3 separate regions of the Homo sapiens genome follow, and regions 1 and 3 are each linked to region 2. The links come from fine-mapping of genetic effects on gene expression. A gene starts in region 2. Each other region holds a variant in brackets. All regions are shown on one strand. Distances are from middle to middle. Region 1 holds the start of UFSP1 (UFM1 specific peptidase 1). Region 2 holds the start of GIGYF1 (GRB10 interacting GYF protein 1). Region 3 holds the start of GNB2 (G protein subunit beta 2).

The links. PIP is the estimated chance that this variant, and not a neighbour inherited with it, causes the effect.
Region 1: its variant is fine-mapped to the expression of GIGYF1 in whole blood (TOPMed, PIP 0.99).
Region 3: its variant is fine-mapped to the expression of GIGYF1 in atrial appendage (GTEx, PIP 0.93).

Annotation. Positions count from the first base shown.
Region 1 is chr7:100,883,339-100,891,485 of GRCh38, forward strand. It overlaps SRRT (serrate, RNA effector molecule), which reads left to right. Exons shown (of 20, transcript NM_015908.6): 6 at 732-901; 7 at 1,030-1,214; 8 at 1,402-1,500; 9 at 1,585-1,702; 10 at 1,875-2,032; 11 at 2,363-2,424; 12 at 2,525-2,603; 13 at 2,909-3,097; 14 at 3,457-3,630; 15 at 3,709-3,862; 16 at 3,982-4,175; 17 at 4,365-4,521; 18 at 4,704-4,805; 19 at 4,919-5,045; 1 more. The coding sequence ends at 5,211. It overlaps UFSP1 (UFM1 specific peptidase 1), which reads right to left and starts at 6,377. Exons shown (of 1, transcript NM_001430944.2): 1 at 5,383-6,377. The coding sequence starts at 6,161. The coding sequence ends at 5,505. It overlaps ACHE (acetylcholinesterase (Yt blood group)), which reads right to left. Exons shown (of 5, transcript NM_000665.5): 4 at 7,831-8,000; 5 at 6,656-6,997. The coding sequence ends at 6,876. RefSeq lists enhancers at 2,466-3,199, 6,870-7,603, 7,321-7,380, 7,604-8,147 and silencers at 6,401-6,450, 7,542-7,699, 7,771-7,820. The variant G/A (reference allele first, on the strand shown) is at 4,306.
Region 2 is chr7:100,689,411-100,697,578 of GRCh38, forward strand. GIGYF1 (GRB10 interacting GYF protein 1) reads right to left here and starts at 4,840. Exons shown (of 27, transcript NM_001375765.1): 1 at 4,700-4,840; 2 at 1-145. RefSeq lists silencers at 2,337-2,506, 4,269-4,388, 4,559-4,658, 5,099-5,258, a cis regulatory region at 3,914-5,407 and an enhancer at 5,946-6,749.
Region 3 is chr7:100,670,212-100,678,365 of GRCh38, forward strand. GNB2 (G protein subunit beta 2) reads left to right here and starts at 3,529. Exons shown (of 10, transcript NM_005273.4): 1 at 3,529-3,712; 2 at 5,966-6,111; 3 at 6,324-6,362; 4 at 6,482-6,588; 5 at 7,141-7,204; 6 at 7,287-7,449; 7 at 7,541-7,607; 8 at 7,887-8,088. The coding sequence starts at 6,055. RefSeq lists silencers at 3,059-3,188, 3,199-3,278, 3,529-3,708, 5,299-5,538, 5,549-6,128 and enhancers at 4,139-4,348, 4,549-4,628. The variant T/C (reference allele first, on the strand shown) is at 3,687.

The DNA of each region.
Region 1 (8,147 bases), 190 kb after region 2:
ACACTCTCCCCTTTCCTCCCTTTCCCCTTTTCCTCATACTCCTCATTTCTTCTGTTTTCCCTCTGAGGTCCTATTTGAAATGTTTTATTTTTCTTCTCCCTAACCTTCCAGCCCTCTCCTCTCTCTCCCCCTGTGGGCAGGACCTGAGGCTCTAAAGGGCACTCCAGTGTCTCCCTTCGGTCTTTCCTGTCCCTTCACCGTCTTGCTTATCTTCCCACGGGTGGAGAAAGGTGCCCTGCCTCTGGGCTTTTGCTATCTGGCCCTCTGTCTTCCACCTCGGGGTGGAGGGAGTTGGCGGGAGCAGTTTTTGAATGACTGCAGTTTGGGGTTGGTGAGGAGAGGGAGGTTCTTCAGGGCCTGCTATTTCCTGAGCCTTCCTCTCTGAAGCTTTGGGAAATGACACCTTTTTACTACGTTAGTGTTTCCCAGAGATTTAAAGTGGTAAATCTGCCTCTCCTACCCTGGCGTCCCCCTGTAGTCATTGGTCTTCCCAAATCCAGAGCTCTTAGTTCCTGGTTCTCCCCCAAATCTTCACAGAACACAACTTCTGGTTCCTTTTGGGGTGTTGGGTGGTTCTAGCGCACCCCTATCCCTTAATCTCTCTATTTTGATGACCTTTTGTGGTTGTGAGAGGAAGGGGGATATGCCCTGTCTTTCCTGGGCCCCTTCCCACATCCTGGCCTTGGCTTCCAATAACTGTTTTGTCTTTCCCTCCCCCGCTTCGTTCCCAGGTTTCGGTCTAAGTACCACCCAGATGAGGTGGGGAAGCGTCGGCAGGAGGCCCGGGGGGCCCTGCAAAACCGACTGAGGGTCTTCCTGTCCCTCATGGAGACTGGCTGGTTTGATAACCTTCTCCTGGACATAGACAAAGCTGATGCCATTGTCAAGATGCTGGATGCAGGTGTGCGGATTTGGAGGGGTGGCAGGCATCTGGGCCCCATGGGGGTGGGGGTGTCTGGGGATCAGGTAGAAGCCGGTTGACAGGAGCCAGGGCCCTGGGGTCATGACCTCTGTTCCCTTTGTTGGTAGCCGTGATTAAGATGGAAGGAGGCACGGAGAATGATCTTCGCATCCTGGAGCAGGAGGAGGAGGAGGAGCAGGCAGGAAAGCCTGGGGAGCCCAGCAAGAAAGAAGAAGGACGGGCTGGAGCAGGCCTAGGGGACGGGGAGCGCAAAACCAACGACAAGGATGAGAAGAAGGAAGACGGCAAGCAGGTCCGAGCCCTGGGTCTCCTAGTGTTGTCCCTGGCAGCCTGGGGGAGGGGGGCGGGTAGGGGTCCATAGGAGCTAGAAGTAGGGGGCTGGGGAAAATGAACCTGTGGCCTCAGCTGTGGGGGTGGGGGCCCTCTGATAAAGGTGGGAGGGGAGGTTTGACATCCCCAGTGGTTGTCTCTTACCATAGGCTGAGAATGACAGTTCTAATGATGACAAAACAAAGAAGTCGGAGGGTGATGGGGACAAGGAAGAGAAGAAAGAAGACTCCGAGAAGGAAGCCAAAAAGGTGAGGTGTCTGTGGCCTGGGGTCAGAGTGTTGGGGCTGGGGTTCTGGCACGCTGACTTGTCCCCTCTGCTGTGGCTCACACAGAGTAGCAAGAAGCGGAACCGGAAGCACAGTGGTGACGACAGCTTTGACGAGGGCAGCGTGTCAGAGTCTGAGTCGGAGTCAGAGAGCGGCCAGGCTGAGGAGGAGAAGGAGGAGGCCGGTAGGGTTTCTTTTCTGCTTTAAAGTGCGTTCTCCTAATGCGGGTGGGGAGGTGAGAGGTTGGCGACATTGACGGGAGGGTGGGTGGCTTTTAGGGGAAAGCTTCTGTATCCTCCCCACCACAATCAGTAATAAAAATGCACCAACTCCTTCCTACCCCCCTTCCTGCCTAGAAGAAGCGCTCAAGGAGAAGGAGAAGCCCAAGGAAGAAGAATGGGAGAAGCCCAAGGACGCCGCGGGGCTGGAGTGCAAGCCGCGGCCGCTGCATAAGACCTGCTCCCTCTTCATGCGCAACATCGCGCCCAACATCTCCCGGGCCGAGATCATCTCCGTGAGTGGGGACCCGTGGAGTCAGGGCAGGGCTGATGGAGAAGTGGAGGGTAGAGGGAAGGCAGTGGGGCCCTGCCTGTGACAGATGCCCCCGTTTCACCTGCTAGGGAGGCCCCTTCCCCAGGTTCCATGGCCTCCGAGGACTAGTCCTGATAGCGCCATTGGCTTTCAGGTGCTGGTGTTCTGAAGCCCTTTAGTGGTTTTTCCCTGCCCAAGGATGGGAAGAGTGATAAGGCAGTTAGTCCCTAGGGTTCTGAGGGCAGTGGGGGATTGGAGGAAGAAGCGAATGAATCCTTGAGTCACTGTGGGGCTGCTTTTCTGCTTCTTGCAGCTTTGTAAAAGGTACCCAGGCTTTATGCGGGTGGCGCTCTCAGAGCCCCAGCCAGAGAGGAGGTGAGTAACTCGGTGCGTTGGAGGGAAAAGTGCAGGGGAACGTTAATGGCCAACACCAACTCCCTCGCTTGACTATGCTAACATTTTCTTTCTTGTGTAGGTTTTTCCGTCGTGGCTGGGTGACCTTCGACCGCAGTGTTAACATTAAAGAGATCTGTTGGAACCTGCAGAACATCCGTGTGAGTGCTGGGGGTGGGACTGTGGGGAAGAGGAAGGGAGACTCTGTGCCACACGGGACCTCTGTGTGACTTTGTTCATCTGATAGTTTGGTTGTTCTGCACACTCTTTGACCGTTTTGTCTGGCTACGTTGTCTCTGGGCAAGGCTCTAGGGCGTTAGCATGGACGGAACCTATGTGGTCCCCGTCCCCAGGGAGCTCGCAGTCTGATCAATCGCTGGTGCTCAAGAGGGAAGGGTCTTAGAGCTGCTGTTTCTCTGGCAAGCGGGGTAAGTGGGGTAAGCTGCTGATGATGTCTGCCCTCCAGCTCCGGGAGTGTGAGCTGAGCCCTGGTGTGAACAGGGACCTGACCCGGCGCGTTCGCAACATCAACGGCATCACCCAGCACAAGCAGATTGTGCGCAACGACATCAAGCTGGCGGCCAAGCTGATCCACACGCTGGATGACAGGACACAGCTTTGGGCCTCAGAACCAGGGACGCCTCCCCTGCCCACGGTCAGTGACTCCCCAAAGGACTTTGTCAGAAGCAACTGGTAGTGCCTCTGCTGTGGGCACCTCTGACCTTACCTATCTGTAGCCTTGAACCCTTGCACCCACTCGCCTGCTCACTCATTTGCCCCTTCGTGTGTGGGTAGCAGCACCTCCAGATTCCAGCAGAACTGGGGGGATGCTAGTGATCATTTGTGGCTGGGGTGGAACAAAAGCTAAAATAAAGACAAATCTCAAGGGGGCAAAAGGTGCCATTTATGTCCGGTGAACTCCTGTCCCCTCGCTGCTCTTTCACTTGTGGAAAGTCTCAGGTTACCTCCTCTGAAGGTCTTCTCTGCCTTACTTGCTTCTCTTCCTCCCATCAGAGCCTGCCCTCGCAAAACCCGATCTTGAAGAATATCACCGACTACCTGATCGAGGAAGTAAGCGCCGAGGAGGAGGAGCTGCTGGGGAGCAGCGGGGGCGCTCCTCCTGAGGAGCCTCCTAAGGAAGGGAACCCGGCAGAGATCAACGTGGAGCGGGATGAGAAGTTGATTAAGGTGCCAGTGGCAGCGCGGGGCACGTGGGGGCTCGGGCGGTGAGGGCAGGAGCTGAACGCTCGCATTCACTTCCCTTAGGTCTTGGACAAGCTCCTCCTTTACCTGCGCATCGTGCATTCCTTGGATTATTACAACACCTGTGAGTACCCCAACGAGGACGAGATGCCCAATCGCTGTGGGATCATCCACGTTCGGGGGCCCATGCCACCCAACCGCATCAGTCACGGGGAAGGTGAGCTCCAGGTTCCCCTTTGTTCCCGGCTGCCCCTGGCCTTGGTCCTCCAGCCCCTTGCCACCATCCTTCCTTCTGGCTCCCTTGCCAACCTTCCTTCCTCTGTTCCCAAACCACAGTGCTGGAGTGGCAGAAGACTTTTGAGGAGAAGCTCACGCCGTTGCTGAGTGTGCGGGAGTCACTCTCAGAGGAAGAGGCCCAGAAGATGGGGCGCAAAGACCCAGAGCAGGAAGTGGAGAAGTTCGTCACCTCCAACACGCAGGAACTGGGCAAGGATAAGTGGCTGTGTCCTCTCAGTGGCAAGAAATTCAAGGTGTGGGATGTTGGAGAATGGCCGTGCTACGGTGGTGGGAGGTGGGGTTGAGACAGGAAGCCCCCTGGGCAGGGGTGGGGGAACTGCTTACTGCACTGGCAGGCGGGAGCTGGGAATCCTTCCAGCTCGG[G/A]CCTGGGAGCGAGGCAACCCTTATGTGGCTGTCCTGACCCCTCTCCTCTCTCCACCCAGGGTCCTGAGTTTGTGCGCAAACATATCTTCAACAAGCATGCAGAGAAAATTGAGGAAGTGAAAAAGGAAGTCGCGTTTTTTAACAACTTCCTCACTGATGCTAAGCGCCCAGCTCTGCCTGAGATCAAGCCAGCCCAGCCACCTGGCCCCGCCCAGAGTAAGATACGATCCATGAAGGTCGCATGTGCCCTCTTCCTTGACTACCCAGGGACTCCTGTTTCTCTTTAACGTGTCACCCCGAGAAGTTTCTGCCCCATCCTCAGGCCATAGCCCTAGAAGTCAATTGTACCCGTATCCCCCTCCCCGCCCCCGCAGTAATTCATGTCCCTGTCCGTGTTGTACTCCCCCCAGGTTTGACCCCAGGACTCCCCTACCCACACCAGACTCCCCAGGGCCTGATGCCCTATGGTCAGCCCCGGCCCCCGATCTTGGGCTATGGAGGTAAGTACAGGAGGGAGATGAAGGGGCTTGGTGAGTGTGTGGCTTTGGGAGAAGAAAACAGAGGATGGAATTGAGGACATAGTTTTGCAACTCAACACTGATCTCTGTCATAGCTGGTGCTGTCCGCCCTGCAGTCCCCACAGGAGGCCCTCCATACCCCCATGCCCCGTATGGTGCTGGTCGAGGGAACTATGATGCCTTCCGAGGCCAGGGAGGTTATCCTGGGAAACCTCGCAACAGGTGAGGAGGGCAGACGCCCAAGCTTTGTTGCCGCCTGCAGACTCCCTTTTGGGAGCCCTCAGCTCTCATCCTGTACCTCTCACCTCACAGGATGGTTCGTGGAGACCCAAGGGCCATTGTGGAATATCGGGACCTGGATGCCCCAGACGATGTTGATTTCTTTTGAGCCGTCCCCCGTTCCTCAGTCCTGTATCATCCATACTTGTACTACCTTGTCCTATGAAGCTCTGAGAATTTTTTGTACGATCAGCCTTACTGCTAATAAAAGCACTTCCACAGGGCTCCTGACTCTCGTGTGTTACATAACTCCTCCATCCTTCCAGAGTAACTCCTGAGGTGTTGCTCAGCCCTGCCACTTTTATTATTGATGTCAAAAGCGCCAGGCTTTGCAGGGACACCAGTGGGAGGTACATAGGTGCGTGTCTGGGACCCGAGAATCTCAGTTCTGTAACTTCGTCCTCAGTCCAAGGTGCGCTGCTGCTGTTGGGAGCTAAGGCTGGTCAAGCACAGGTTGTAGAAGGAGTTGGGGTCAAAGGCTGCACTCACCTCTTGCCAGCCCACCCACCCAGCAGCCTGTAGTTCACTGGGGCTTTTTGGAGTGCCCCAGTAGTGAGGGTCCAATACCAGGACATAGGCTTCCGTGCCTGACCCTACGCAGACTCCCAGCAAGGCCTTGGACCTGGCATCTGCGTCCCCCCCAACCATGACTGGGCCCCCACCCCCTGCGAAGTGCGAGTAAAGCCTCTCCAGCTCCCCGTGCAGCCCCACTCCCCGGGGTACGTGGCAGAGGCGTCCCTGGGGCCCTCCGAAGTGAGCGAGGCAGAGGCTGGCCTCCACGCAGCCGATCCAGTCCCGGGAGCCCCGGAAGCCGGGGGGCTTGTCGCCCATGTCCTCCAGGGCCGCCTGTACGGCGGCCAGTCCAGGTACGCCCGCGGGCTGGCCCTCTGGCCACGAGCACAGCGTCTGCAGAGTGCGGTAGCCGCAGCCCCAGCCGCGGTCGTCCAGGCCGTCGCAGCCGTAGTGGTAGTAGAGGTAGTGGCCCGAGAGCAGCGCCAGGCGGACAGGGCCGCGGCTCGGCGGGGACAGGCCCACGTGGACGTCCCTCAGCGGCTCCAGGGCGGTGGGCGGGAGCGGAGGTCCCAGGCCAGGCACAGCGTCCTCCTAGCGGCGCGGAGCGACCTCAGGCTCCAACACTTCCTTTCGGCTCCGGGTCTTGGGCCAGCTGCCGCAGGACCGGCGCGCAGACTGGGGACGCGCTCCCCGGGCCTCGTTGATCACCGCAGGCCGCAATAGGCAGCCACCGACCGGCACCGACCGAGGAGCTCCCACAATGCTCCGCCGCGCCCCGCCCCGCCCCGCCCCTCCCCTCCCCTCCCCTCCCCTCCCCTCCCCTCTCCTCCCCTCCGCCGTGCCAGCTAGCCTGCCTGCGGGCCTCATTACGCAGGCGCGAGCTCCGCCCGGCAGGGCAGGGCTAGGGGTTGGCCTTTGCCTTGCGCCCGCCTCGGAGCTCGCCTGTTTCTTGCCCTCCAGCCCCGCTCCTGCATAGACTCGGCCCCCGTGATTCCGGCGTTCTGCCTCTACCCCTGGCTCCCTAGTCGCGCACACTCCCGTGGCTGTAACAGTTTATTGGCAGCCCAGAGGGGCGAAGGCACCGCGGGGGAGGGAGCTCAGCCTGAGACATGCAGAGGACCGGGAGCCCCGGGGGACGTCGGGGTGGGGTGGGGATGGGCAGAGTCTGGGGCTCGTCTGTGTTATAGCCCAGCCCTGAAATAAATAGTATATACAGCTAGGGGGCCGGGCGGAGCGGAGGACATGGGGGTCCCGCCGGGGTCACAGGTCTGAGCAGCGATCCTGCTTGCTGTAGTGGTCGAACTGGTTCTTCCAGTGCACCATGTAGGAGCTCCAGCGGTGGAACTCGGCCTTCCACTGGCGCTCCGCCTCGTCGAGCGTGTCTGCGGCCAGGGCGCCCAGCGAGGCGGGAGGGGAGGACGGCACGAGGAAGGTCGGGGATCGGACATTTGGGCGGGTTGAAGGGGGGGTATGAGTGCAGGGAGGACGCACGGAGAAATGCAGGCGACCACGTGGGACGGTGGCAAGAGGATCAGGAGAATGTGCGAAAGACGAGAGGGAGGATGAGGGCAGAGGCGGGGCCGGAGAAGGACAGCAGGAAGGAGAGAGGAGGAGAAAAGAATGACCGGAAGACGGGAACAGAGGGGACAGGAGGGGGAGGTTGGGGGAAAAAGAAGAGACAGAAATGGTTGACCGTTATAGCCCCAATGGGGGGTGCTACCCCGTCCGGGGCCTCCCACTTCCCCCCAATGTCAGGCTCAGGTTCCAAAAGATAATTTTATAAAAGAATACTGGCTTTTCCATTTCCATTCAAACAACAAAGGCGTGGGGGTCCCTGAGAAGGGTGGGAGGCACGGCCCCCTCCTCCTGCCCTGTCCAGTGTGAGTCTCTCGGTTTGAGGAGGAAGGGAGCACTAGGTCTGAGATCCCTGAGTGGGGCCCTTCCCCACGGTCCGACCACTCATTAGAGGAGGGGCCCCTGTGGCCGTAGGGGAAGAGGCCGTGTTCACAGCCGCCGGAGGTGGGAGAGGAAGAGGAGGAGAAGCTGGTGGAGGAGGAGGAGGGGCAGGGGGAGGCCGGGCCTCGGAGCAGCCTCCCCATGGGTGAAGCCTGGGCAGGTGCTGGGAGCCTCCGAGGCTAGGGGGAGAAGAGAGGGGTTACACCTGGCGGGCTCCCACTCCCCTCCTCCCAGCCGCTGCCCGCTGGCCCCTGCATACCGGTGGCGCTGAGCAATTTGGGGAGGAAGCGGTTCCAGAAGGCGCAGGCCTGGGCGCGCAGCCCCCGCCGCACCTCCAGCGGCCGCAGGTCCAGACTAACGTACTGCTGAGCCCCCGCCGTGTACGGGGGCCATTGTGGGGCCTTGGGGTCTCGGGGCTCATTGGGATCCCTGCGGAAGGAAGGGAAGGCTCAGTCCAGACGGGCAGTGGGAGGAGGTGGCCCCCAACTCCACGGGATCCCGGACTCTTCAGCTCAGCGGAGAGCCCCAGAGAACCCGTCCCCTCCCTCCCACCACTTTCTCCAATGTGCGCGGTCA
Region 2 (8,168 bases):
TTCAGGAGGAGGCGCATCCCTGGGGCCCCAGGCAGAGGACTCAAGCGGGTGGGCGGGGTCCAGGTGCTGCGGTGTTGTCACTGGCTGGGAGGGAGGCTGGCCCGGCTTGGTGCTGCAGCTCCCATCAACTCCAGGACGCCACAGTCTGGGAAAGAAGAGGAAGCGGGTTCAACCAGGGTGCTGAGGAGGAAAGGCCATCAGCCCCAGCTGAGCCAGCAGCCCATGACAAGCCGAGGCCTGCTCAGAGTCCAGGCACTCCAGGGGGAAACACCGGGCTCAGAGGCAACCCAAGGCCAGGCTGGCCTCCCCTGGGACCTCTCCTTCCTCTGCCTCGGCTGGATGCTCCAGTGGTGGTGTGTTCCATGACATGAAAAGCCACCAGCCTGTCACTGACTGCAGGTGGCCACCTAGAGCAATCTGGGGACTGGATGAGCCTTGAGGACATCACGCTAAGAGAAACACACCAGCCAAAAAAGGAGAGCTACCCCTTACTTCTCTTTCATGAGGTCTCTAGAGCAGTCACTCATTGAGGGAGGAAGGTAGAAGGGCAGCCACCAGGGGCTGAGGGGACAGGGAGCTGTTGCTGAAGGGTCCAGAGCCTCAACTGAGGAGGGGATCCTGGGGCCGCTGGTGGTCATGGCCGCACACCAATGTGAGTGTACTTAGTAACACAGAATGGCACAATTAGAGACAGTTAAAGTCTCCAAATTTTGTTGTATATTTTACCACAATAATCATTTTTTTAAAAAAGCTTTAGGGAACAAAAGGTATCTGGAGATAACCACCGCATACCTAAGTTTTCCCCACTCCAAGAAAAACACCCCACATTCCTTCAAATCAGCCTCAGGAGAGGCCATTTTGGGCCTCCTCCAGTTCATTCCTTCTAGAAGGCCAGAAGCTCATCCTGGAGGCATGAGGGTGGGAGAGAGTAGAACAGAAAAGGGACCACCTGGCCAGCACAATGGCTTATGCCTATAATCCCAGCACTGTGGGAGGCTTGAAGAGAGGAGTCCGAGACCAGCCTGAGTAACAGAACAAGACCACGACTCTACAGAAACAATTCTAAACATTTTTTAAAAAAGAAAAAGTGGCCAGGCGTGGTGGTTCATGCCTGTAATCCCAGCACTTTGGGAGGCCAAGGCAGCCAGATCACCTGAGGTCAGGAGTTTGAGACCAGCCTGGCCAACGTGGCAAAACCCTGTCTCTACTAAAAATACAAAAATTAGCCAGTCCTGGTGGTAGGTGCCTCTAATCCCAGCTACTCGGGAGGCTGAGGCAGGAGAATCGCTTGAACCCAGGAGGCGGAGGTTGCAGTGAGCTGAGATTGCGCCCCTGCACTCCAGCCTGGGCAACAGAGCAAGACTCTGTCTCAAAAAAAAAAAAAAAAAAAAATTTAAAGCGATGGCCTCACACTGCCCCCTGCCAGGCGCAGCAAGGGCAGCTCTCCTAGGTGCCTCCGGCTCAAGTCACCCATCCTGGCTGTGTCTTGGCTGCAAGGGGCACACAAAGGGGGAATGGTTCATGCAGACTGAGGACAGCGACACCAAGACAGGGGAGAGAGCAGGCCCAGAGCAGGAAAAAGCCCATGCCACCCGCCTTCTTGGGAAGAAACCAGGAGAGTGAGGTTAACTCTCTAGGCACCCCCACAGCAGGGTCTGGTGCCGGAAGCTGATGGTGCCTGGCCCCTTCCTTGGACTAAAGGAACTAGTGGCACACCTGCAGGCCACCATGGGGCTCCCACCCTCCAACAGGTTCTGGACTGGGGGCACCTCTGCTCCTCAGGGGGCTCTTGGCCAAGTCTAGAGACATTCTGGGTTGTCACCACTGGGCAGGGGGTGCACAGGGCAGCCCCACAGCCAAGAGCTATGTGACTCCAGATACCAAGTGCGCCAGTGCTGAGACACCCTCCTCTGCGCCACGAGCATGGGCACAGCCCTTGGGGGTCTACTGGGCCAAGGGGAAGGCAAGGGAAGGCAGGTGTGTGCACGCTGGGTCATTCTCCTCTCTGAACAGCAGGGACATCATTCCCTAATTACACTGTCCCACGAGGGAAATCTGAAATCCTGCCAGGAGAAAATCTTTGAGAAAAGAATAGATTTTTTTTTTTTAAGAAAAACTGCCTAAGTTTGTCTATTGCAAGCTCTCAGGGCCAGGTATCTGATCCCTGTCCAATGAAGGTAAGAGCAGGAGGTGGCGGGGGCTGGGGTACTGCCACCTGCCCGTCTCAGCTTACCCGGCTGAGCTTTCTCAGCTCAGGGTCTCCTTCTCACAGGCCCCTTCCAGCCTGTCCCCCGCCCTGGCCCTGCCCTCAAGCCTCGGCCTACTTCGGCTCCTCGCCCCTTCCCCACCCCTTCTCTTTCTCGGGCCTGTCTACCCTCACTCCCCCAGCATCTGAATCAATGCTTTTGAAAGACTGCCCCCTGCCGGAGACAAGGGGCGAGGACACGCTGGGCCCGGGTGCTCCAGTAGGCGCCAGGGCGCGCGGGAAAGGGAGCCTGCTCTCTGGGGCTCAGAACTCAAGAGAGAAAGAAAAGACAGAGAACAGGCGGTCCCAGTGCACATTCAGCTAAGAACATTATCTCCTCACTCCATCACCCCTAAAATTAGCTCCAACACAGAGCACTGTGCCTTGGCACAGAACAGAGCCACTTAAACAGAAGCACAGTCCCCAATTCCTCAACACTGGAACAACCGCCCAGCCCCAGGCCTGCTGGAGGGGACCTGGCCCTTTCTCAGGATGGAGATTCTCCAAGCGTGGTAGGGTGAGGACGCTGAGGCTTAAAAAAGAGATGCAAACCCGCATTCTTCGCGGCTGGTCGGTTATCCCAGCTCTCTCCTCTCTGAGCCATCCCAGCAAATCACACCACCGCTTGGCAATTGTCTACAAGTTAACAGTTTTCAAAGGATTTTCACTCTTTACCTCCTGTGATCCCTTTTGCCCACTTGCCCAGCCTTGGGCTCCAGCCAGGGAAAAGAAGGAGGAAGCTGCTCCGACAGCGTGCCCCGACATCCTTGACACTATGCAAGACTGGAGGTGCGCACGGTAGCAGTAACCATCCCAAACTCGCAAGCATTATTCTGTGAGTTTGAAGCCATTTTACATTTGTTAGACTTTCAACATCCTTCATCTAGCCTCCTCCTCTCATCTTCTCTCCTCTAAAGTGGGCTATTTTTCTTTAATTCCCAAATTCCAATAGCAGATGTAAAAGTTAGGGCTAACGCATCAGATCACGAACACAAGACTGATGTGTCCAACAGCAGAAAAAGCTAGTCCAGAAGTTTAAGCACATGGTCCACTTGACTAACCACCACGTGGGACCCTCAGGGCCCCTGGTCCCCAGGCAATGGCAGGGACACCAAGGCCAGGTCTACCCTCAAATCCTTCCCAATGGCACGACAGACCGCTGGGGGACCAAGACCTACAATCTAAGAAAATCAGATTGGAGCTGGCTAGCCTGGTGGAGGGTGGCTAGCCTAGGTCTGCAAAGGGCACAGGAAAGATGGGAAGGAGAAAGAACCCCAAATCCCCCATGTCGGCAGCAAAGGAGAGACCCTTACTGGTACCACCGATGGTGTTTCCATGCCAAAGGCGAGGGGTTGGCGGGGTTCTAAATTGAAACTTCTATATAGACTCGAAGAGGCAGTGCACAAGAGGGTGGGAAAGCTGACGATCTTCCAGAACGACACTTTGAGAGGCAGGAGGGAAGTAAGGCTTGGGTGGCTGGAAAAAAAAAATCCAATCCAGCTAACAAGTCTTTATGTAGCATCTCCTAGTTCCTAGCACTAGGATGCAACAGACCTGGAGTCTGACCGGGAATGCGAGTAATGACTGTATAACAGAGAAGAGAGACGAGGGGCTTTTAAAAAGTTACTCGGAAATTTTTTTGTTTTTTTTTTTTTTTAAGGCAAAGTGTGAGAGCTGTGGCCAGGGAGCTGCTGCACGGAGGGGCATGAGCTGAGAAGGGCCTGGCCTGGGACGGGGAGGACAAGCAGTCTCTGCTAAGGAAGGTATTTCCCGCGGCCGAGCAACTGGGAAGAAGGAGACCCCAATGACCCAGCACTAAGATCGCCGGAGCGAAAGGAAACAGAGGTGAGGAGGACCCAGGCGAGGTGCCTGGGTGGAGGGCAAGGCTTCCATGTTGGCCAAAGTCGTGGAACGCTTGGACCTGGGGAACCGCAAGGCCCAGCTCGTTCCGAGGGGAACCCAAAGGCGCGCTGGGGAGAACTCCGGGAAGCGCGGGGCCCGGCCACCCTAGGACGCTAGGGTCGGGGGCCCCCAGGCGGCCCAGGGCAGGGCTTGGCAGGGGCCCGGGGGCGACCGTTAGGAGCGCGGGGGTGGAAGGCAGCGCGCCGGCCCGGGAGGACGGCGTGCCCTTCAGGGAGGGGCGCCAGGTGCGAGGGGGGCGAGCGGTCGCCCCCTAAGCCGGGCGCCGGCCTCCCGGGGCCTCCCCGAGGCTGGCCGGCTCTGGGGGAGGGTCCCGGCGGCGGGGATGGGCCGGAGCGGGCGGGAGAGCGGGAGGACGCACCGGGCTGCGGCGGCCTCGGGGAGGAGACGGGGGAGGGTCCTCGCTGGCGGCCCGCGCGCTGGCTCCGGCGCTTCTCTAGCTCGCGGGCTCGGCGCGGCCGCCGCGGCGTCGGGGGCGGGCCTGCCCCGGGGCTGGGCTGCGGGCCGGGGGCCGCGGGGCCACTGGGCGCTTACCGCGGGCGGCGCGAGGGTCCGGTCCCGGGGCGTGGGCGGCGCGCGGCGGGCGGGGGCCGGGGACGGCGACGGCGGCTAGCAGCGGGGGAGGGGGCGCTGGCGCTCCCGCGGCGGCCGCTCCTCTGTGTTTGTGTTTGTAGCAAGATGGCTGCCCGCCTCGCACCACGTGACGCGGACGCGGGGCCGCGGGGCCGCCCCTTCCACCGCCGCCGCCGCCGCCGCCGCCGCCGCCGCCGCCGCCGCCGCCGCCGCCGCCGCCGCCGCCGCCGCCGCCTCCCTCCGCGGCTCCGGCCCGCGCCACCTCTCCTCGTGCGCTGCTCGCGTGCCGCGCGCGCCACTGCCCGGACGCCCGTCGCCCCCGACAGCCCCCCCCCTCCCCGCCCCGACACGTGACCTGGGCGCCCGGCTGGTCACGTGACGGGGGCCCCCAGCTGCGGGCGGGATCGGCCCCAGAGCGGCCTCCTCTCCCCCACCTCCCCCGGCCCCGCGACGCGCGACCTCTGGGACCGAGGCCGCGGCCTCCCTGGCGGTCCGGTTTCCTCCAGGAAGCCCGCCTGGATGACAGGAGACAATAAAATCCAGAACCCTTCATCAGGCGTCCTGGGATGTGTGAAATAAGTGGCTCAGGCAAATAAGTTGACTCTCAGGAGCCTCTTTATTTTTTTAATTATTTATTTAATTATTGAGACAGAGTGTTGCTCTGTCCCCCAGGTTGCAGTCCAGTGGCGCGATCTCGGCTCACTGCAGCCTCCGCCTCCCGGATTCAAGTGATTCTCATGCCTTGGCCTCCCGAGTAGCTGAGATTACAAGCACACACCACCACGTTTGGCTTATTTTTGTTGGCCAGGCTGGTCTAGAACTCCTGACCACTCAAGTGATCCGCCTGTCTCGCCCTCCCAAAGTGCTGGGATTACAGGCGTGAGCCACCGCGCCCGGCCCCTATTTATTTATTTTTTTGAAGCAGGGTCTCACTCTGTTGCCCCAGCTGCAGTGTACTAGCCCGATCTCGGCTTACGGCAGCCTCCAACTCCCGTGTCTCAAGCGATCCTCCCATCTCAGCCTCCTGAATTGTTGGGACTATAGGTGTGCACCATCACACCCAGATAACTTTTTTATTCTCTGTAAAGACTGGGCGGGTGGCGTGTCTCATAACATTGCCCAGGCTGGTCTTGAACTCCTGGTCTCAAGGGATCCTCCTGCCACAGCCTCTTGAGTAGCTGGGACTACAGCTGTGTGCCACCACACCCAACTAATTTTTTTAATTTATTGTATTTGTTGTTTGTTTGTTTTCCAAGACAGAGTCTTGCTCTGTCGCCCAGGCTGGAGTGCAGTGGCGCGATCACGGTTAACTGCATCCTGCGCCTCCTGGGCTCAAGCAATCCTCCTGCCTCAAGCACCCTGAGTAGCTAGGACTACCAGGGCACACCACCACGCCCAGCTTTTTTTTTTTTTTTTTTTTTTTTTTTGTAGAGACAGGGTTTCCCCCATGTTGCCCAGGCTGGTCTTGAACTCCTGGACCCAAATGATCCTCCTTCCAAAGTGCCGGGAACTCCTGGACCCAAATGGATCCTCCTTCCAAGGTGCCGGGATGACAGGCATGAGCCGCCACGCCTGGCCTCTCAAAAGCCTCCGTTTCTCTTACAGAAGGATGTTAACACTGCTCTGCACCCAACCCCCGACCCCCAACTCCACACTCTTCCTTGAGTGCTGTAAGAATTAAAATAAGTGAATGTGAAAGGCTTTGACAAGAGAGAAACTGCTATGCAAATGTGAGGTGACTGAAACCCCCTTTGTTTAAAAAAAGGACTTTTCAAGAATGACTCGCTGAACTTTTTCAAGGCTCAAAAGTTCCGCGTATGCTTTCACCTTTTTCTTTGGAAGTTACTCCAGAATGTATACCTTACTTCCCAGAAGCCTAAAAGAGCTGTCGCCCAACACAATGTAATCCTCAAAACAAGGAAAAGGTAAGTTCATGACTTGGAATTTGAGTGCCTGGTGTCTTGCCATGATAGAGTGTTGACTTCAGGAACTATTATACCTGGAACAACTTTTGTTTCCCCCACCAAGTACCACTAGGCTTCTCTGCACTTGGAGTTTTCCTGTCTGTTTTCCTTTTTTAACTATTTTATTTATTTAAGAGACAGGGTCTTGCTCTGCTGCCCAGCCTGGAGTGCAGTGGCACAATCAGCTCACTGCAGCATCGACCTCCTAGGCTTAAGTGATCCTCCCTCCTCAGCCTCCCGAGTAGCTGGGATTGCAGGGAGTGGCACACCACCATACCCGGGTATTATTTATTATTTATTTTTTTTTTGAGAAAGAGTCTCACCCTGTTGCCCAGGCTGGAGTGCAGTGGCGTGATCTCAGCTCACTGCAACCTCCGACCCCAGGTTCAAGCAGTTCTCGTGCCTCAGCCTCCCAAGTAGCTGGGATTACAGGTGTGTGCTACCATGCCTGGCTAATTTTTGTATTTTTAGTAGAGACAGGGTTTCACCATGTTGGCCAGGCTGGTCTCGAACTCCTGAACTCAGGTGATCTACCTGCCTCAGCCTCCAAAAGTGCTGGGATTACAGGCACGAGCTACTGTGCCTGGCCCAGCTATTATTTTTTACTTTTAAATTTTTGTACAGACTGAAGTATCACTATGTTGCCTGGGCTGTTCTCGAACTCCTGGGCTCAAGCAGTCCTTCCATATTGGCCTCCCAAAGTGTTGGGATTACAGGCATGAGCCACTGTGCCTGTCCTGCTGTCTGTTTTTATATTTTATTTAATATTTTAATTTTTTTCGAGACGGAGTTTCGCTCTGTCGCCCAGGCTGGAGTACAGTGGCGTGATCTCAGCTCACTGCAACCTCCACCTCCTGGGTTCAAGTGATCCTCCCACCTTAGTCTCCTGAGTAGCTGAGACTACAGACAGGCGCCACCATGCCCAGCTAATTTTTGTATTTTTGGTAGAGATGGAGTTTCACCGTTTTGGCCAGGCTGGTCTCAAATTCCTGGCCTCAAGTGATCCTCCCGCCTTGGCCTCCCAAAGTGTTGGGATTACAGGCGTGAGCCACCGTGCCCTGCCAGCTAGCTTCCTTTCTCAAAGAGGGAGTTTATAGGCTTTAATTTCTGCTGACTTCAGCATCAGTGTTCACACTTTACAGTTGGTGGGGATTACTTGTCCAAAGTCACACATTGGTGTCCAGGAGATCCAGGGAGACCCCTCTGGTCTTCCACCGTGATTGTATTAGTCAGTTCTCATGCTGCTAATAAACCTTGTCCTTCCTTGAGCCCAGAAGCCTGGGCAACAAAATGAGTTCTTGACTCAAAAAGAGAGAAAAGTGAAAAAATATAATAAAAAACAAAAAAGAACTGTGAGTCTCCCATGAAGAATTTAAAAATTACAAAGAAATCACTTGGACCTAATTGGCCGGGCATGGTGGCTCACACCTGTAATCCCAGCACTTTGGGAGGCTGAGGCAGGTGGA
Region 3 (8,154 bases), 19 kb before region 2:
CTGCGCTGCTTGTTGTTAAGTGACTTTAGGGAAGTCATCGTGGCCATCTACAGATTGAGGAAATCAACGTAATTATCTCTGAGGTCCCTCCCAAATTCTCATGTGTAGTTGACATCTGTTATCTATTGCTTATATGTCACTGAATTGGCAGGTATGCATAAATAGAATTTGCATCTAACTACGAATACGATTGTTTATATTTTCTTTAAAAAAATATTGGGCTTTTGTTTCTCATATTGAGAGCTCTGTTATGCCATTTTCGAATTTCTCCCAGATGTCCCCCCCGGCCCACCTTCAAACTCTGCTTCCTTAGACAGATTTGGCAATAGCTTTGTAAGTGATATGGACATAATTGCCTAAAATAATGAAAACCTACAGGATTCTTTTTTCATTTTCCCTTTGGCATGTTTACAATTCCCTGCCCCACCAGGCAGATCATTCTGTGTGTGTGAGTGTGTGTACCCATTACAAAGACAACTACTATGTTCATAACATATTCGATTTGGAAAAAACAATTGTAGGCTGGGCACGGTGGCTGACATCTGTAATCCCAGCACTTTGGGAGGCCGAGGCGGGCAGATCACGAGGTCAGGAGTTCAAGACCAACCTGGCCAACATGAAACCCCATCTCTGCTAAAAATGCAAAAATTAGCCAGGCCTGGTGGCATGCTCCTATAATCCCAGCTACTCGGGAGGCTGAGACAGGAGAATCGCTTGAACCCAAGAGGCAGAGGTTGCAGTAAGCCGAGATTGTGCCATTGCACTCCAGCTCTGGGTGACAGAGCAAGACTCCATTTCAGAAAAAAAAAAAAAAGAAAAAAGAAAAAACAATTGTTTTTGAAAAGTGATTTGTAATGTCTTTCACAGAGACTAAATGAAGAGTATGTTTTGATACTTTTTAAAATATAATTTCATCTTTTTAGATTCTGACTCATGTGCACATGAATGTACCCATGTACATGGGTATATCTTGTGATGCTGAAGTTTGGGGTACAATTGATCCCGTCACCTGGGGTACAGTACCCAATAGGTAGTTTTTCAACCCTTCCCCCCTCTAGTAATCCCCCGTGTCTATTGTTCCCATCTTTATGTTCATGAGTACCCAGTGTTTAGCTCCTACTTATAAGTGAGAACATGCAGTGTTTGGTTTTCTGTTCCTGCAGAAATTTATCCACTTAGGATAAAAGCCTCTAGCTGCATCCATGTTACTGCAAAGGACACGATTTCTTCTTCTTTTCTTTTCTTTTGTTTCTTCTTTCTTTCTTTCCCTTCCTTCCTTCTCTCTTTTCTTTCTCTTTCTCTCTCTCTCTCTTTTCTGCATCCATGTTGCTGCAAAGGACATGATTTCTTCTTTTTTCTCTCTTCCTTTCTCTTTCCTTTCTTTTTTTCTTTCCTTCCCTTCCTTCCCTCCTTTTCTTTCTTTTACTTTTTCTTCTTTTGTCTTTCTTTCTTCTTCTTGAGTCAAAGTCTTGCTCTGTTGCCCAGGCCGGAGTGCAGTGAGTGGTGTGATTTTGGCTCACTGCAACCTCCGCCTCCCGGGTTCAAGCAATTCTCCTGCCTCAGCCTCCTGAGTAGCTGGGATTACAGGTGTGTGCCACCACGCCCAGCTAATGTTTGTATTTTTAGCAGAGACGGGGTTTCACCATATTGGCCAGGCTTGTCTCAAACTCCTGACCTCAAGTGATCCACCCGCCTCGGCCTCTCACAGTGCTAGGATTACAGGCGTGAGCCCCATCTCGTTCTTTCTTATGGCTGCGTGTTTTGATACTTTCAAATTACAAGGACTCAGTGAAGGCTATTCGTTGCCTTGAACTTCCCAAAGCATTTCCACAATCGATGGGGTTCTCAGTAAGAATCCGGGACTTGGAGGGCAGATGCTGTCAACATCCCCATTTAACAGATGTGGAAACTGAGGCCTAGACCTACGTTCTTGTCCCTTTACAGGCAAGGTCCCTGGAGGAAGGGGTTCATCTAGAGGCTCATACAGATAAACTGGAATGTACAGTAAAGTTTTGGCTGCCTGGGTTCATATCTAAACTCTGCAGCCTCAGGTCTCTTTCCACTATTAGAAAATGGGGAGAAGGCTGGGCGCGGTGGCTCACGCCTGTAATCCCAGCACTTTGGGAGGCCGAGACGGGCACATCACCTGAGGTCAGGAGTTTGAGACCAGCCTGGCCGACATGGTGAAACCTCGTCTCTACTAAAAATACAAAAAAAAATTAGCTGGGCATGGTGGCGGGCGCCTGTAATCCCACCTACTCCAGAGGCTGAGGCAGGAGAATCGCCTGAACCCAGGAGGCGGAGGTTGCAGTGAGCCGAGATCATGCCACTGCACTTCAGCCTGGGCGACAGAGTGAGACCCTGTCTCCAAAAAAAAAAAAAAGAAAAGAAAAGAAAATGGGGAGAATGTTAGCACTTAATTTCCCAGTATTGTGAGACTTAACATATGTCAGCCTGGGCAGCATAGCAAGACCCCACCTCTACCAAAAATTTAAAAATTAGCTGGGCATGGTGGCTGGGGCACGCCTGTGGTCCCAGGTACTAGGGAGGCTGAGGCAGGAAGATCACTTGAGCCGAGGAGATTGAGGTGGCAGTGACCTACAATCGCGTCACTGTACTCCAATTAAAAAATAAGTGTCGGGCCAGGCGCGGTGGCTCACGCCTGTAATCCCAGCACTTTGGGAGGCCGAGACAGGCAGATCACGAGGTCAGGAGATGGAGACCATCCTGGCTAACACCGTGAAACCCCGTCTCTACTAAAAATACAAAAAATTAGCCGGGTGTGGTGGCACACGCCTGTAGTCCCAGCTACTCAGGAGGCTGAGGCAGGAGAATCGCTTGCACCCGGGCGGCGGAGGTTGCAGTGAGTTGAGATAGCACTCCAGCCTGGGCGACAGAGAGAGACTCCGTCTCAAAAAAAAAAAGTGTGGCTCTCAATAAATGAGTTGTTATTTCAGTGGCAAGCCCTGAAAGGGGGTCTACAAAGGCCCAGTGGGCGAGGCTGAGGAAATGCCTGGACACGACCCTTCTCATGGCATTCCCGGGGCGCCCGCATCAGCCCCTACCCACTCCCGCTCGGGGACTTTCTCGGAATCGCGCTTCTTCTTCCAGCAGCCTCGAGGCCGGCCCCGTCCAGGTCTCTTTAGCTCCGCCCCCTGGTGAGGGGCGTGGCCTCCTCAGGGCCGGGGCGTGGCCCAACCGGGAACTGGGGCGTCGAACTCCCCTTCCCAGTCTGGAGCCACCCATTCCAGGCGGGGCGGGAGGCTGATCACGTGACCAGCGAGCGGTCTCACCCTCCTCATATGCCAGTACCACCTCCTCCAGTCCCAGAGGGGGGATGTCTTACTCCTTTCCGTGAAGCAAACCCTTTGAGTACGGTTTGCGTCCACAAAGCGTAGGGTGAGAACCTTGGGAGCGACTGGGCCCGTCTTTGCTCCCTCGGTGGGGTTTTGTCTCCTGGCTTCCCCCAAGTGCGAGGCAGTTGGTCTCGCCCAGCCGGGTCCTGGGCGCGGCGGCGGCAGCCGCGTCACTGGCGGGCGGGATCCCTCCGCTCTGGGGAGGCAGCGCTGGCGGCGGGGCTGGGGCCACTGAGGAAATCCATCCGCGCCGCCGCCGCCGCCGCCGCCGCCGCCGCCGCCGCCTCCGCCGCGGAGGAAGACAGCGCCGCCCGCGCACCGCCAGCGACC[T/C]CCGCCGCAGAGTCCCACCGCCACAGGTACCTTCGCTGGCAAAAGGAGTCCTCTCGCCCCCCAGCCCCAATTTCCCCCAGGGGAACCTCTCTTCCTTCGGTCTCCCGGGGCTGGCCTCCTGGGAGCGGACGTAACTCCCCAGACCTCCGCTCCCTTCCCCTCTTGCCCGGTCGCTCCCAAACCCGGAAGGGGAACTGGGGAACCCTCGCCCCCCACCGTGCGTGCGCTTCCCCGCACCATCAGCGAAGTTTTTGCCCGACCCCAGACCCCAGCCCAGCCCCGACTGCCTCTTGCTCCCTCGGAAGTTGGGGGGCTAAATTCCGGGCTTCCTCTAGGCCCCGCCCCGCCCCCTTTCCCCACCGCCACCCTCCCGCCTGCCCCCGGGGAGCACCCCTCGTGTCCTCCACTGTCGCACCCCTGCCGGCCCTCGCCTTGCACAACTCCAAAATCGGGGAGAAGCAGGCAAGGCCGCGCGCCACCCTTCCTTTCGTCTCCACCCTACCCACGATTTGGGTGCTGCCCGTGGTTTCTGGCCCCACTCGCCGAAACTGGAGCCCTCGGCGCCCTATTCCCTTTACAGATCCTCACCCCAAGCCCAGCTCCCAGGCGCCCGCCCCCCGCCCAGCTTTCTTTTAGGCAAAATGGAGGTCGTAGGGGCTGGAGGGCCAGGCCCACTGCGCTTCGCAGCGCCGCACCAGCCCGCGCCTTCCAGCTGCCAGATCCAGGGACCCTCCCGTCACTCTCCTGAGCCCCGCCAGACCTGCGGAGGCGGTTGCACCCTCATTTCTCTATGGAGCGCCGGCTGCTATATCCCTAGAGTCTGGGGGCTGCTGAGGGCCCTGGGGGGTGATGGGGACCGAGGGCTGAGAACGTCGCCCCCGCCCCCAGTTTCTTCCTCCAGCCGTGCTTCCTTCTGCCCTGGGCCTCCGGCGGTGCCGCCAGGCCTGGGCTGCTAGTAGGTGGAAGAGGCTTTGTGCGGGCCTGGGGGTTGGGTAGAGTAAGGAGTTCTGCCCGCACCCCCCATCCCCCGATTTTGAGGGTCACCCCTTGGCACTGGCGTAGAAAGCTGAACTTACAAGGAGGGGAAATGTCAGTGGGGAAGAGGAACGCCCTGCGCCTGGGGGAAGTGGGAGCTGGGTGGGGGACGCCTGGGCCGGCCAAGTGCAGTGTGTACGGCCGGATCGCACAGGTGTCCCGCGGGCGGGGAAGGACTCAGGCTCCCGGAGCGGAGCCAGCCGGGCCCCTGGGGCCCGGGCGCCGAGCCTGCGGGCTGGGCCCCCCGGGTGTCCAGGGCGCCGCGGCCAGGCCGCCTGGGGCCGCCCGCCCGCGCCTGGGAGAGAGCACCTCCGCGCCTCGGGGCCGGGGACCTCGTTGCGGAGCCGTAATTACTCGAGAGCGGCTCCCACGGGCTTTCTGCGGGCGCGGCGGGGCGGGCGGTCCCTGCGCTGGAGGGAGCAGCGGCTCGGGGCTGCCTTCCCCGCCGCTGTCACCCCCACCCGCGGCGGACGGCTAATGGGGCGCAGCCGGACCGGGGATTATCCGGGGTGAGCCGTCCAGAACCTATTAGCGCCCAATCGGCTTTTCCCAAATCCTGTAAACAGCCACCCGGGCCGGTTCTGGGGAGGGCGGGAGGCTGGGTCGGGCGGGGGCGATGGGGCCGGGGGTGGGGTCACCCACCCTACAGGTCTCTGCCGTGGATGCGGTTGCCTTGGCAACGGGGCTAGGGTGGGGGCATTTCACCAATGAGGTGCTCTCGGTCCGGGTGACGGTTGCCTAGGCAACCCCACGAACAGCCCAGCTTTCCCCTCTGGTCTCTCCCCCCACCCGCCACCATCGAAGCTGGGGGTGTGTGTGGAGGGTGTGCGCCTTGTGGGGTGAATTTCAAGAGGCACCGCCCCTTTTAAAATTAGGTGCTTGGAGGGCGGTGCCTGTGCGGGCTGGGGCAGAAGCCAGGTCTGTTTTCGAAGGGACACCCCCGCCCCCCCCGCCCCAGTTCCTGCCGCGGGTGTCCTGCCCGGGCTGTGTCCGAGGGAGGGGTTTCCCCTGCGCTTCCTCTTGCACTTCCCGCTCCGTTTCCGGGGGGCGGGAGGAAGATTGGGGAAGTCGGCTCTTACTCGGCGACGTCTCTGGTGCCGGAGACCCTGGTTGTGCCCGGGGACGGCGGCCGCGCCGCCCCTTCCCCCTCCCCTTGCTTACCCCTTCCGGGCCGCGCTGCAACCCCGCCTTTCTCCCCACTTCCCCGGCGGCCTCGGGCCTGACGTCAGCCCTGCATCCCCCAGGCCTCGGGCCAGCGGCCAGGAGCTGCCTCCCCCAGCCCCCGTCCCGCGGCCCCCAGCCGCCCCCAACCCTGCCCCACGGGCCCGGCGCCATGAGTGAGCTGGAGCAACTGAGACAGGAGGCCGAGCAGCTCCGGAACCAGATCCGGGTGAGGGCCTGGTGCGGGGCGGGCGATTCATGTGTACACCGCCCGGTGCCCTGGACCGGGTTGGGTGAGGGTGTTGGTGGGGGAAGGGGGAGGGAGGGCCCCTTAATGGCTCAGAATCTGACCCTGTCCACTCCTGTCTTCTGTTCTCTTCTCTCCCTTTCCTCCCCAACCTGTCTTCTCTCGCGTCTCTCTGGCTCTGCCATCCCTTACAGGATGCCCGAAAAGCATGTGGGGACTCAACACTGACCCAGGTGAGGGCACTTGGTGGCCAGAGCGTAACTAGGGGTTGAAGGGGCAAGGATCAGAGGCCGCTGCCCTCTGCAGTCCTGCTGCCTGGGCCTCCCCGAGCGCATTCTGTCTCTACCTCCAGATCACAGCTGGGCTGGACCCAGTGGGGAGAATCCAGATGAGGACCCGGAGGACCCTCCGTGGGCACCTGGCAAAGATCTATGCCATGCACTGGGGGACCGACTCAAGGTGTGTGTGTGTGCGCGGGCTGGCGCTGTGGGCCGACTTTCTAGCAGGCCGTGGGAGCAGCCTCAGATCTGGCGGAGTAAGCAGGCCACCAAAATACCCAGCGTACGTCTGGAAAAACGGTGACTCCCAGACATGTCCGCCAGACCTGGACAGGCAGGACCATGCTGGTGAGAACTTGTGGGCTGCAGCTGGAGACTGTCTCTCAGGTGGCTCACGCCTGTAATCCCAGCACGTGGGGAGGCCAGGGCAGGATCACTTGAGCTCAGGAGTTTGAGACCAGCCTGGGCAACATAGTGAGACCCTGGCTCTACTAAAAATTGAAAAATGAGCTGGGTGTGGTGGTGCTCACCTTGTAGTCCCAGCTATGCGGGGGAGGCTGAGGTGGGAGGATCACTTGAGCCTAGGAGTTCCAGGCTGCAGTGAGCTGTGATGGTGCCACTGCACTCCAGCCTGCACAACAGAGAGAGACCCTACCTTCTCCCACCCAAAGGGAAGGGGGTGTGTCTTGTTTTCACGCCACCCTTCTGCTCTCCCTACACCGTTCCCCACCAGGCTGCTGGTCAGCGCCTCCCAGGATGGGAAGCTCATCATCTGGGACAGCTACACCACCAACAAGGTAGGGTGGCGCGGGCTGCGGGGTGGGGCAGGGCCACAGGGCCCTGGCTGGCTCTGACCCCGGCGCTTCCCCTGCTCCGCAGGTCCACGCCATCCCGCTGCGCTCCTCCTGGGTAATGACCTGTGCCTACGCGCCCTCAGGGAACTTTGTGGCCTGTGGGGGGTTGGACAACATCTGCTCCATCTACAGCCTCAAGACCCGCGAGGGCAACGTCAGGGTCAGCCGGGAGCTGCCTGGCCACACTGGTGAGGGGCCTGGCCCAGTTCGGGCCCTTTTTGGGGTTGGGGGGTGCACTGCCCTCCGTGTGGAGACCTGGCTGACCAGCTCCTTCCCCAGGGTACCTGTCGTGTTGCCGCTTCCTGGATGACAACCAAATCATCACCAGCTCTGGGGATACCACCTGGTGAGGCTCTGCCAGGGCTGGGCAGTCTGGGCAAACCCACACTTCCTGCCTCAGGGGCCACCGTCCCAGTGCTCAACATGCAGCATGCACCGTAGCCTCCCTCTCCTGGTGGGCGCTAAGGGGGTCAGGGAGGGATGCGTCCCCTCCCCACCTAAGGCTCTGAGAAGAGCCTCCCTGGACCCTTCCACAGGGTTGGGCTCACGTGGTGGGGCGGGGAGAACAGGGACTCTGTTCTTCGCCCTGTCTCTTATCTTTTCTTTCTTCCTGTCACCTCTCCAGTGCCCTGTGGGACATTGAGACAGGCCAGCAGACAGTGGGTTTTGCTGGACACAGTGGGGATGTGATGTCCCTGTCCCTGGCCCCCGATGGCCGCACGTTTGTGTCAGGCGCCTGTGATGCCTCTATCAAGCTGTGGGACGTGCGGGATTCCATGTGCCGACAGACCTTCATCGGCCATGAATCCGACATCAATGCAGTGGCTGTGAGTTTTGGGGCGAGCTAGGCCAGGCCCTCCCCACCAGGCTCCCGGCCCTGCTCCTCACCCTCA